2 linked regions of the Homo sapiens genome follow. The protein of the gene in region 2 interacts with the protein of the main gene of each other region in a pairwise test. Each region holds a gene or a part of one and is shown on either strand. Other genes may lie near its edges.

The links. The genes of interacting proteins can lie anywhere in the genome.
Region 1: the proteins of ITGB2 (region 2) and MS4A7 interact in binary tests that used the Homo sapiens proteins (3 or more experiments, as listed by UniProt).

What each region holds. Positions count from the first base shown.
Region 1 is NC_000011.10:60,380,314-60,385,031, forward strand, and holds part of MS4A7 (membrane-spanning 4-domains subfamily A member 7), read left to right. Parts: intron 1-2,815; 5' UTR 2,816-2,828; coding exon 2,829-2,975; intron 2,976-4,718. UniProt on the Homo sapiens protein: May be involved in signal transduction as a component of a multimeric receptor complex.
Region 2 is NC_000021.9:44,885,350-44,890,009, reverse strand, and holds the end of ITGB2 (integrin beta-2 isoform 1 precursor), read left to right. Parts: coding exon 1-32; intron 33-514; coding exon 515-734; intron 735-1,114; coding exon 1,115-1,317; intron 1,318-3,107; coding exon 3,108-3,274; intron 3,275-3,579; coding exon 3,580-3,642; 3' UTR 3,643-4,057; downstream 4,058-4,660.

The DNA of each region.
Region 1 (4,718 bases), on a different chromosome or scaffold from region 2:
GACAGATGGGAAGAGAGAATGTAAAGAATATGTGCATAGGAAACAAGAGTGATCGGGTGGCAGTTGAAAGTTAAGGAGCTAATTTGTTTTCTTCTTCAAACTGTATTCCCTTGTAATGGTGGTACTTTATGCACTCTTTCAAACAGAACAAACAGTTAAGAAATAACAAAGGAAAATAAATGTTCATGGTATCAGATAGGCTATAGCCTGAAAGTATCAATTAAACTTTCGAGTCCTAGCTTCAGGCTGAGAATCAAGCATTTTCTGCAGTCCTTAGGTATGAGATTCGAAAAATAAAGAAAGGAACCCAGAACTCAGGAGGCTGGTGACGAAGACTAGTAGGAAGGAGTCTAGTTGGTATATTTGGGCTATTGAGCCACACAGAGCAAGGTAAAAGCCAAGTTTCTACAACATGAAAGCAAGTTGGGAAAAAGAAATCTTCAACCTATATTCCCTAAGATCAGCAATGTCCCTGGGAGAGGATATGGAACTGATGAGTGGCAGCCAATGCTTCAACAATAGGGGAGGAAGAATAGAGAGGATGAGAATCAGTTGTAGCTAGCCGGGCAAGAACAAACCTACAGGGATATAGAAGAGCTCTGGTGTTAGATGGCCTGTGCCCAAATCTTGCCTCCACTACCTGCTAGATAAGCAATCTTGCACAAGCTATTTCACCTCTCCAAGCCTCATTTTTCTTATCTTCAAAGTTCAGCACCCATCTCTGAGACTGCAGATTAAATGAGACTGTCACAAAGCTCTTAATAGAATGCCACATTCATAGTACGTGCCCAATCAATGTTAGCAATGATTATCATTTTATCATGAACTACTGTTTGATTCTGGAACCTAGAATTTCTCTAAGCCTGACACTTTTTCTCCTTCTCTGGCTTTAAAGATGTGCTGGAAGGCTCACCCTGACTCCACTGCAGGGATTCAGCTTCAACATTATTCCCCTCATAGGACATGTAACCTCACCCACACTTCTACCCAGATTTCAAAATTCCAAGAAATGAAAACTATCTCCTTAAACAAAGAGAACTTTAGGTTTAATAATTCTTCAGATAAAGTATCTCATGCCCGGAGAGCATGAGAAACTAGACTAAGGCACAGATCTAGGAGTAGAAATAAAATGGAGGTCCAAACATGGATCGACTATTATGGAACACCTGATAAAACTCAGAGAGTTACAACAAAAGACACTCACGTGTGTCATTCAAATCCTCACAAGAGTCCTTCAGGATAGTGTCATTATCCTTATTTTACAGATAAGGAAACTGGGGATGAATGAGGGAAAGTATCCTGCCTACGGCCAGCTCATCAATATCAGAACTGGGCTTCCAATGAATATTAGATAAAACTGATATGTTTTGGGAGTTTATCACATGCCTCCCCCTATGCTGAGTCCATTATATGTGTCATCTTATCCAACCTGTACCACAAACCTATGAAGTGGTGAAAATACCTTGCCCAGGGTGAGTTTAGCAGTAACTGGTGGATATGGGATCTGAACACACGACTGGACTCCAAGACATATGGTCAGATGTGCAACTAGATGCCTAGGCATTGGACTCCCATCCCAGTGCACTTTTCCATCTCCCTCACTAGGAAGAGATTCTAGGTGTCATTTCCAATTTTTACATGTTCTTCACTCCACCCAAGAGAGGCCAGAACCATTCCTAAAGCACCAACACATTGAGGCAAAATGTCAGGCAGCAGAGCTGTGGCACCTTTCAAGGATGACAAGCCTTTAACTAAACTCTGGCCTTCAGTAGGGAGAATGTTGAGCTGAAAACAAATCTGGGCAACATTTCAGGTGCTGAGCCTTGTTGCTGACACCACAGAGGCCCAGCAATGCTGCTGAGTTAGTGGTGGCAGACAACTTGCTCCTGGAATCTACAAGGGAACTGGAAATGTTAGGAAGGAAGAAAGGAAGGAAGAGGAAGAGGAGGAGAATTAACATGGCATAGAGAAAAAAATATCACAAGCGTCTGAGCCAGACAAGTCTCAATCCAGTCATGTAAACACAGGCTGTTAATATTTGCTACCATATATTGAACACATTCTAAGTGCCAGGCTAAGTACTTTATGTGACTATTTCATTCAATAAAAGTCACTTGAGCTTATTAGCCCCAGGTTTCTAATGTATAAAATTGATTTAATAACATGTAAGTTACAGGGTTGTTATAAGGATTAGAGCTGCAATGGTCTAATGCTTGGAATTCAGCAGGAGTTAAGTAAATGTTTACATTACTAATTACGAAGCCAATATAAGCAAGGAGGAAGATTCCGGATGGGACAGGCCATCTCGCTATAGGAAAGGAAAGTGGAACAGCATTCATCCTCAACATTTTTACGAAGACAAAATGAAGACTGGAGTAGAAGACTGATCAGTGCAGGTGTAGCATAAAAGTGTAATCCTGGAAGATGTGGTGTGAGAAGGTAGCACAAGTGAAGCAGAGATACAGGAGATAGGGAAGGGAAGCTGGAAGCAGAGGTCACTGGAGGGAGAGGGAGATGGACACATTCAGGGCTACAAAGCAAGTTCTATGTGATTTGCTCACCTCTCAATTGTGGGACCCCTCAAAATGTGTACAGTACTCTCCCAGTGACATGCTTCTTGACCACAATGGATGAACTGTGCCCAGCATGCCCACTTTCCAATGCTCCACTGATCCCCATGTTTTGTTTCTGAAGGACAACCAGCCTTGGAATAATGGCAAATACCTTCTTAAGTTCCTACAAAGTATGGTCCCTGGGAAGTTTATGTCTGTAAGTCAAACCTTGGGAAGTAACTGAGTTTTGATGCCTCTTCCAGCATCATCAGCATCATGCTATTACAATCCCAAACCATGGGGGTTTCTCACAGCTTTACACCAAAGGGCATCACTATCCCTCAAAGAGAGAAACCTGGACACATGTACCAAAACGAAGATTACCTGCAGAACGGGCTGCCAACAGAAACCACCGTTCTTGGGGTAAGTCCACCTCATTATAAGGGGAATACTGAGAAAATACTTTGTAAATGTATCTAGACTACAGATCTACAGTGGGTCTGGGAAACTCTTTCACTCTTTTCTGGCTGACTCCAGGCTAATGAGGACATGAAATGGAGCTTTAAGGGAAGACTCTTAAAGCTCTGCAGCAGTTTCTAGAAACTAAAACCACTAGATCTTTTTCACTAGCATGCTTCACAATTAACAGGTTAGTCTTTCTTATTTTATTTATTTATATATTTATTTATTTTGAGACAGAATCTCCCTCTGTCACCCAGCATGGAGTGCAGTGGCACGATCTCAGCTCACTGCAACCTCCGCCTCCTGGGTTCAAGTGATTCTTCTGCCTCAGCCTCCCGAGTAGCTGGGACTATGGGTGCACGCCACCACGCCCGGCTAATTTTTGTATTCTTAGTAGAGATGGGGTTTCACCATACTGGCCAGGCTGGTCTTGAACTCCTGACCTTGTGATCTGCCCGCCTTGGCCTCCCAAAGTGCTGGGATTACAGGCATGAGCCACTGTGCCCAGCCACAAATTAGTCTTTCTTATTTTGTCATTAGTACAGTAAAAATTTTCTATTTAACCATATGGATTTTACTCAATATGATTAAATTAACTTTGAGCTTATTTTTCAAATATTTTGAGATGAGACGATCAAGACTAATCTCATGACCCATTTTTCCCCGTTCATATGAGTAACTATAAGACATCCAAGTGTCCCAGATCATCATCCCTCATATCCAGAACTTTAATCTCCATGTGGTTTTGAATACCCTCTTATAATACCCAGGTCCTATTCACTGCCTATTTAGATGGATCTCCCTGCCCTGTTTCTTTACAATCTATTCTTAGTACAGCAGGTAGGGTACTCTTTTAAAAATGAAAGTTAGATCATGTATTCTCCTGGCTCAAAATTATCCAGTGGGATTCCTTTTTTGCTCAAAATGAAAAGCAAAGTTGGTAAAACATAGCCTAAAAATCCCTACATAGTTTGTACCATGCCTCCAGTACTTCACAAGCCTCATGTCCTACTACTTTGCTCTTAACTCTATTCTGCCTTGCATGGAACTTGTCTGTACCTTTACAGACAAGACATAGTACACATATAAGCTCTCCAATGGTAGTGATTTTCATTTGCTTCATTCCCTCGTGCCTGGCACACAACATACCTGTTGTGGTATTCAATAACTGTTGATGATGTGAATGGTTGACTTCTTTTTTTATTTCTCCTATGTTTGCATCATCTTTCAATTGCACATGCATTAAACTATGAGCAAAAGCATGGGCTTTAGAGCAAGCTAACAGCTAAACTTCAGTTCTTCCACTTGCGAAATAATTATTATTAAAATCCAATGATGAACAAAATAAGATGAATTACAGCAGAAGAGATGACCTGCTCTATCTAATTTCAACTGAAAAATCTCTTCATTAACACTCCTGTGAAAAGTTTGCTCTCTATTTCCACCTCACTGGACAACTTTTTTATCTACTTTTCAAGAAAATAAATTTAAAAACTGTCAAGTATCTTTTTCAAAAAAAGTTAAAATGTGTGTATGATCACTTTCCGATTTGCTGGTTTAATAATCCTATCAGAAAAGAAGAGGTTAGCTATACATGACTTTCTCTAGAAGCATATCGATTGGCTCCTTGTAACATTTTTCCTCTTTAATATAACAAATTATAATGTATTTTATACTCTTTATACTTTACCGTGTGCATTCAAA
Region 2 (4,660 bases):
GCGCTACAACGGCCAGGTCTGCGGCGGCCCGGGTGAGCCCGTGGGTCCCTGCTGGACAACGGCCGTCCTGCGGCACAGACTTGGTGTTGGGGGGTGCGTTCTGGACCATTCAACGAGTGGAACAGAAAGGGGGGATCCTGAGGACAGACAGTGCAAGTCTCGCCCAGCCACCGGGCGTCAGCAGGAACTTGGATGGCCCTGCACCCCGCCCTGCCTCAGTTTCTGTGTCCATGAGGACAAGGCGTCCTTGTGGGGAGGGCCCACAGGAGGAACGGTCATAGCCCTATTGAGGTCCCATTCACAGCAGGGCAGGGGAGGTCCAGACTGGCCAGGAGGCGGCCACGTGGCTGGCGGGGGCAGAAGGGCCTGGCTAGTGGCCCCATGCCTTTTGCTCAGGAACATCCCCCAGGCTGGAGGAGGCAGGCGGGCCGGAGGGAGCAACCGCAGTGGGGTTTCGGGCGGGTCTCGGTTCCCAGGCCAAGCAGGAGCTTAGCCGTGCTGCCCCGTCTTCCAGGGAGGGGGCTCTGCTTCTGCGGGAAGTGCCGCTGCCACCCGGGCTTTGAGGGCTCAGCGTGCCAGTGCGAGAGGACCACTGAGGGCTGCCTGAACCCGCGGCGTGTTGAGTGTAGTGGTCGTGGCCGGTGCCGCTGCAACGTATGCGAGTGCCATTCAGGCTACCAGCTGCCTCTGTGCCAGGAGTGCCCCGGCTGCCCCTCACCCTGTGGCAAGTACATGTGAGTGCAGGCGGAGCAGGCAGGGCGGGCAGGGATCCCCACTCCCCGGCCACCTACCCAGCAGCCGGGCTCACTCGGGGACCCCAGTGAGCACCTCTGCACCGCGGGGTTCTCTGCGGGTGCGTCTGGACTGAGGGGCCCTCCGCGGCCGCCGTGCCCCTGTGTCCCTCCTCCCTCCTGTGCGCACCTGCCGCGGGCCCTGGGATCAGGCTTCCAGTTCACCCGCTGCACCCGCATCTGCCCCACTTGGGCCCCCTCCTTGGCCTGAGGGCGCCCCAACCCCACCTGCCCCCCCTGGTGGACACACACCCAAGCCCGAGCCCCCGTTGCCGGAGCCCCCGCACACCCTGGCACCGATGCTCACACCTGGCTCCCCGCAGCTCCTGCGCCGAGTGCCTGAAGTTCGAAAAGGGCCCCTTTGGGAAGAACTGCAGCGCGGCGTGTCCGGGCCTGCAGCTGTCGAACAACCCCGTGAAGGGCAGGACCTGCAAGGAGAGGGACTCAGAGGGCTGCTGGGTGGCCTACACGCTGGAGCAGCAGGACGGGATGGACCGCTACCTCATCTATGTGGATGAGAGCCGAGGTGAGGCCGCTGGGGTGCAGCGGGGACCGGCTCCAGAGCTCCGGCTGCGGGGTCTCCGCAGAGGCGAGGGTGGTGCGGAAGGAGGATCTCACCTCCAGTGTTGTGGGCCCAGCAGGGTGGATGAGCCATGCGGGATGCCCTTGGCATTGCAAGGAGGCCAGAGGCCGGTCCCCTCACCCCCAGCAGCCTCCCCTTTCCCTCCCCTCCTCACCTGACCCCACATCAAGCTGGGCAGCAGACGGCCTGCTCCCTGGGGGCACCACTGCTCCACACCGGGCAGGCCCACCAGCATGCCACACGGCCCGGGCCATCTCCCGCTGGATGCCTCATGGGGCAAGGCTTGCAGTTGCAGGTCCCCAGGGGTGGCCCGCGGTCAGGTTGCTGCGTGAGGCTCCTTTGAGGGGATTGGGAGATCCTGGTGCTCGGCTCTCAGCCCTGGAGGGGCCCAGGGCCACCAGGCACCACCGTCCCCATCACTCGTTCGGCTCCAGTCCAGTCGGAACCAGTCCCAGCCCCACAGTGACCTTGGTGGCACTGACCCTGTCTCATTCGGCTCCAGTCGGAACCAGTCCCAGCCCCACAGTGACCTTGGTGGCACTGACCCTGTCTCATTCAGCTCCAGTTGGAACCAGGCCCAGCCCCACGGTGACCTTGGTGACACTGGCCCTGCTTCTTCAGGTCTCATGTTCCACAGGCTCCTGAGAGGCAGAGGGGCTGGGGCTGGGGGGCCGCTGGCGGACTCCATCAGGCATGGCCAGCAGCCGGCCAGGACTCTTGCAGAACTGAGACCTGGGAGCTCCTCCCTCACCAGGAAGGGACCCGAGGCAGGCGGCGGGGGTCTCTGAGCCTGTAGGTGACATGCCTGGAGCTCACAACCCACATGTGGGCCTGGGGCTGCAGACCCCCACCTGCCAGGGCAGGAACCCCTGCGGGCCACTTTGAGGGACAGACTTGGGTCACGTCTGGTTTGTGCAATCCTGGCCAAGTCACTTCACCTTTGAGGACAGGTGAAGGAAGGCAGGTCCCCCAGGAAAGGCAGGATGGCAGGAGGGGGCACGGGGAGTGAGAGTGCAGGTCAGGATGGCAGGAGGGGGCACAGGGAGTGAGGGTGCAGATCAGGATGGCAGGAGCAACCACAGGGAGTGAGGGTGCAGGTCAGGATGGCAGGAGGGGTACAGGGAGTGAGGATGCCAGACCAGGCCAGGGACTGCACTGAACGCTAGTGTCTGTCCCAGGGTCAGCAGCTGTGGGCCTGGCCCACTATGGCCCACAGTCCCCATGCTCAGGAGGTGGGCACAGCTGCCGTGGGAACCAGGACCTTGCGTTGCTCATCCTGGCACCGGCCTCACCTGCTGAGCTCTGGTCTCTGGTCTTGTCCTTGACGACCACAAATCACTTTCACAGTATGGGGAGTGAACTCCAGCAGGGACCCTGAGCCTGGTTCTGAACTCTGCTGTAGGAGAGCGGGGTCCCTCGCACTGTGTCCTACCCCCCAGTATTAGCACTCTGTCCTGGCTGCCCGGTACCCTGGCCCTGCCTTCTTCTCTGTCAGCAGGGGTGGTGGCAATGGCCCTTAGGTTTCATTTGGAACCACAGGGCCTGGCCTGGAATCCAGCAGGGGCTGGGCCAGGTTCTCACTGACCCCTGGCCATGGTGATGGATGGTGAGCCGGGGCCCTGGGAACCTCCGTCTCTCTAAGTGCTGTGTTGTGGGGTGACCTCGGACCTGTGGGCACACGGCTCAGTGAGATGGGGCTGGACTGACGCTCAGGTGTGCTGCTTCTTCCCTAGAGTGTGTGGCAGGCCCCAACATCGCCGCCATCGTCGGGGGCACCGTGGCAGGCATCGTGCTGATCGGCATTCTCCTGCTGGTCATCTGGAAGGCTCTGATCCACCTGAGCGACCTCCGGGAGTACAGGCGCTTTGAGAAGGAGAAGCTCAAGTCCCAGTGGAACAATGTAAGTGGCCGTCCTTGGGGGTCCCACGCAGAGGGGCACGTGCGTCCCACACTATGCGACCTCCTGCTGCGGGAGGCCGTGGACACCCGTGTGTGGCTGCACCCCGGCCTCCCCAGGCAGCTTGTCCTCTGGGCGTCCGCCGCTGTGGGTGAGCTTGGCTGCCGGTGCTGGGACCCTGGGGGGGCTGCCCCACGTCTAGCTCTTCCTCAAAGTGACGGCTTCCATGCGGGGAGTGTCCTCAGGGAGAAAGATTCTGCTCTGAAAACCTCCCACACTCACAAGCCCCTGTTTGCATTTCCCACCAGGATAATCCCCTTTTCAAGAGCGCCACCACGACGGTCATGAACCCCAAGTTTGCTGAGAGTTAGGAGCACTTGGTGAAGACAAGGCCGTCAGGACCCACCATGTCTGCCCCATCACGCGGCCGAGACATGGCTTGCCACAGCTCTTGAGGATGTCACCAATTAACCAGAAATCCAGTTATTTTCCGCCCTCAAAATGACAGCCATGGCCGGCCGGGTGCTTCTGGGGGCTCGTCGGGGGGACAGCTCCACTCTGACTGGCACAGTCTTTGCATGGAGACTTGAGGAGGGAGGGCTTGAGGTTGGTGAGGTTAGGTGCGTGTTTCCTGTGCAAGTCAGGACATCAGTCTGATTAAAGGTGGTGCCAATTTATTTACATTTAAACTTGTCAGGGTATAAAATGACATCCCATTAATTATATTGTTAATCAATCACGTGTATAGAAAAAAAATAAAACTTCAATACAGGCTGTCCATGGAAACTGGGCACTGTGTCCGCTGTATTCCCCCGACTGGCAAGGTGGCCAGGCACACGTGGGCCCTGTCCTGCCCGCTGACCTTTGCCACACAGGCACACAGCTGGCTTCAGACCATGGGGCAGGTTCTGTTTTCCCTTTTCCTTCCTCACCTGCTGGTCTATACAGAGCCCCGCTCTGAGGCCCTGTCCCAAATCCTAGGTGCATTTCCGTAAACGGTGGTGGCCCCACCAAAGAGGTGCCTGCGGCGGAGCCTGGCCAGGGCAGAGGCAAAGCAGGAAAGCGGGTACCTGTCTGCCCTCCCTCCAGCCATCTACACCTCCCCTCCAGCCATCTACACCTCCTCTCCAGCTCTACACCTCCCCTCCAGCCATCTACACCTCCCCTCCAGCCATCTACACCTCCCCTCCAGCAGTCTACACCTCCCCTCCAGCCGTCTACACCTCTTCTCCAGCCGTCTACACCTCCCCTCCAGCAGTCTACACCTCCCCTCCAGCCATCTACACCTCTTCTCCAGCCATCTACACCTCCCCTCCAGCAGTCTACACCTCCCCTCCAGCTGTCTACACCTCTTCTCCAGCCGTCTGCACCTCCCCTCCAGCAGTCTAC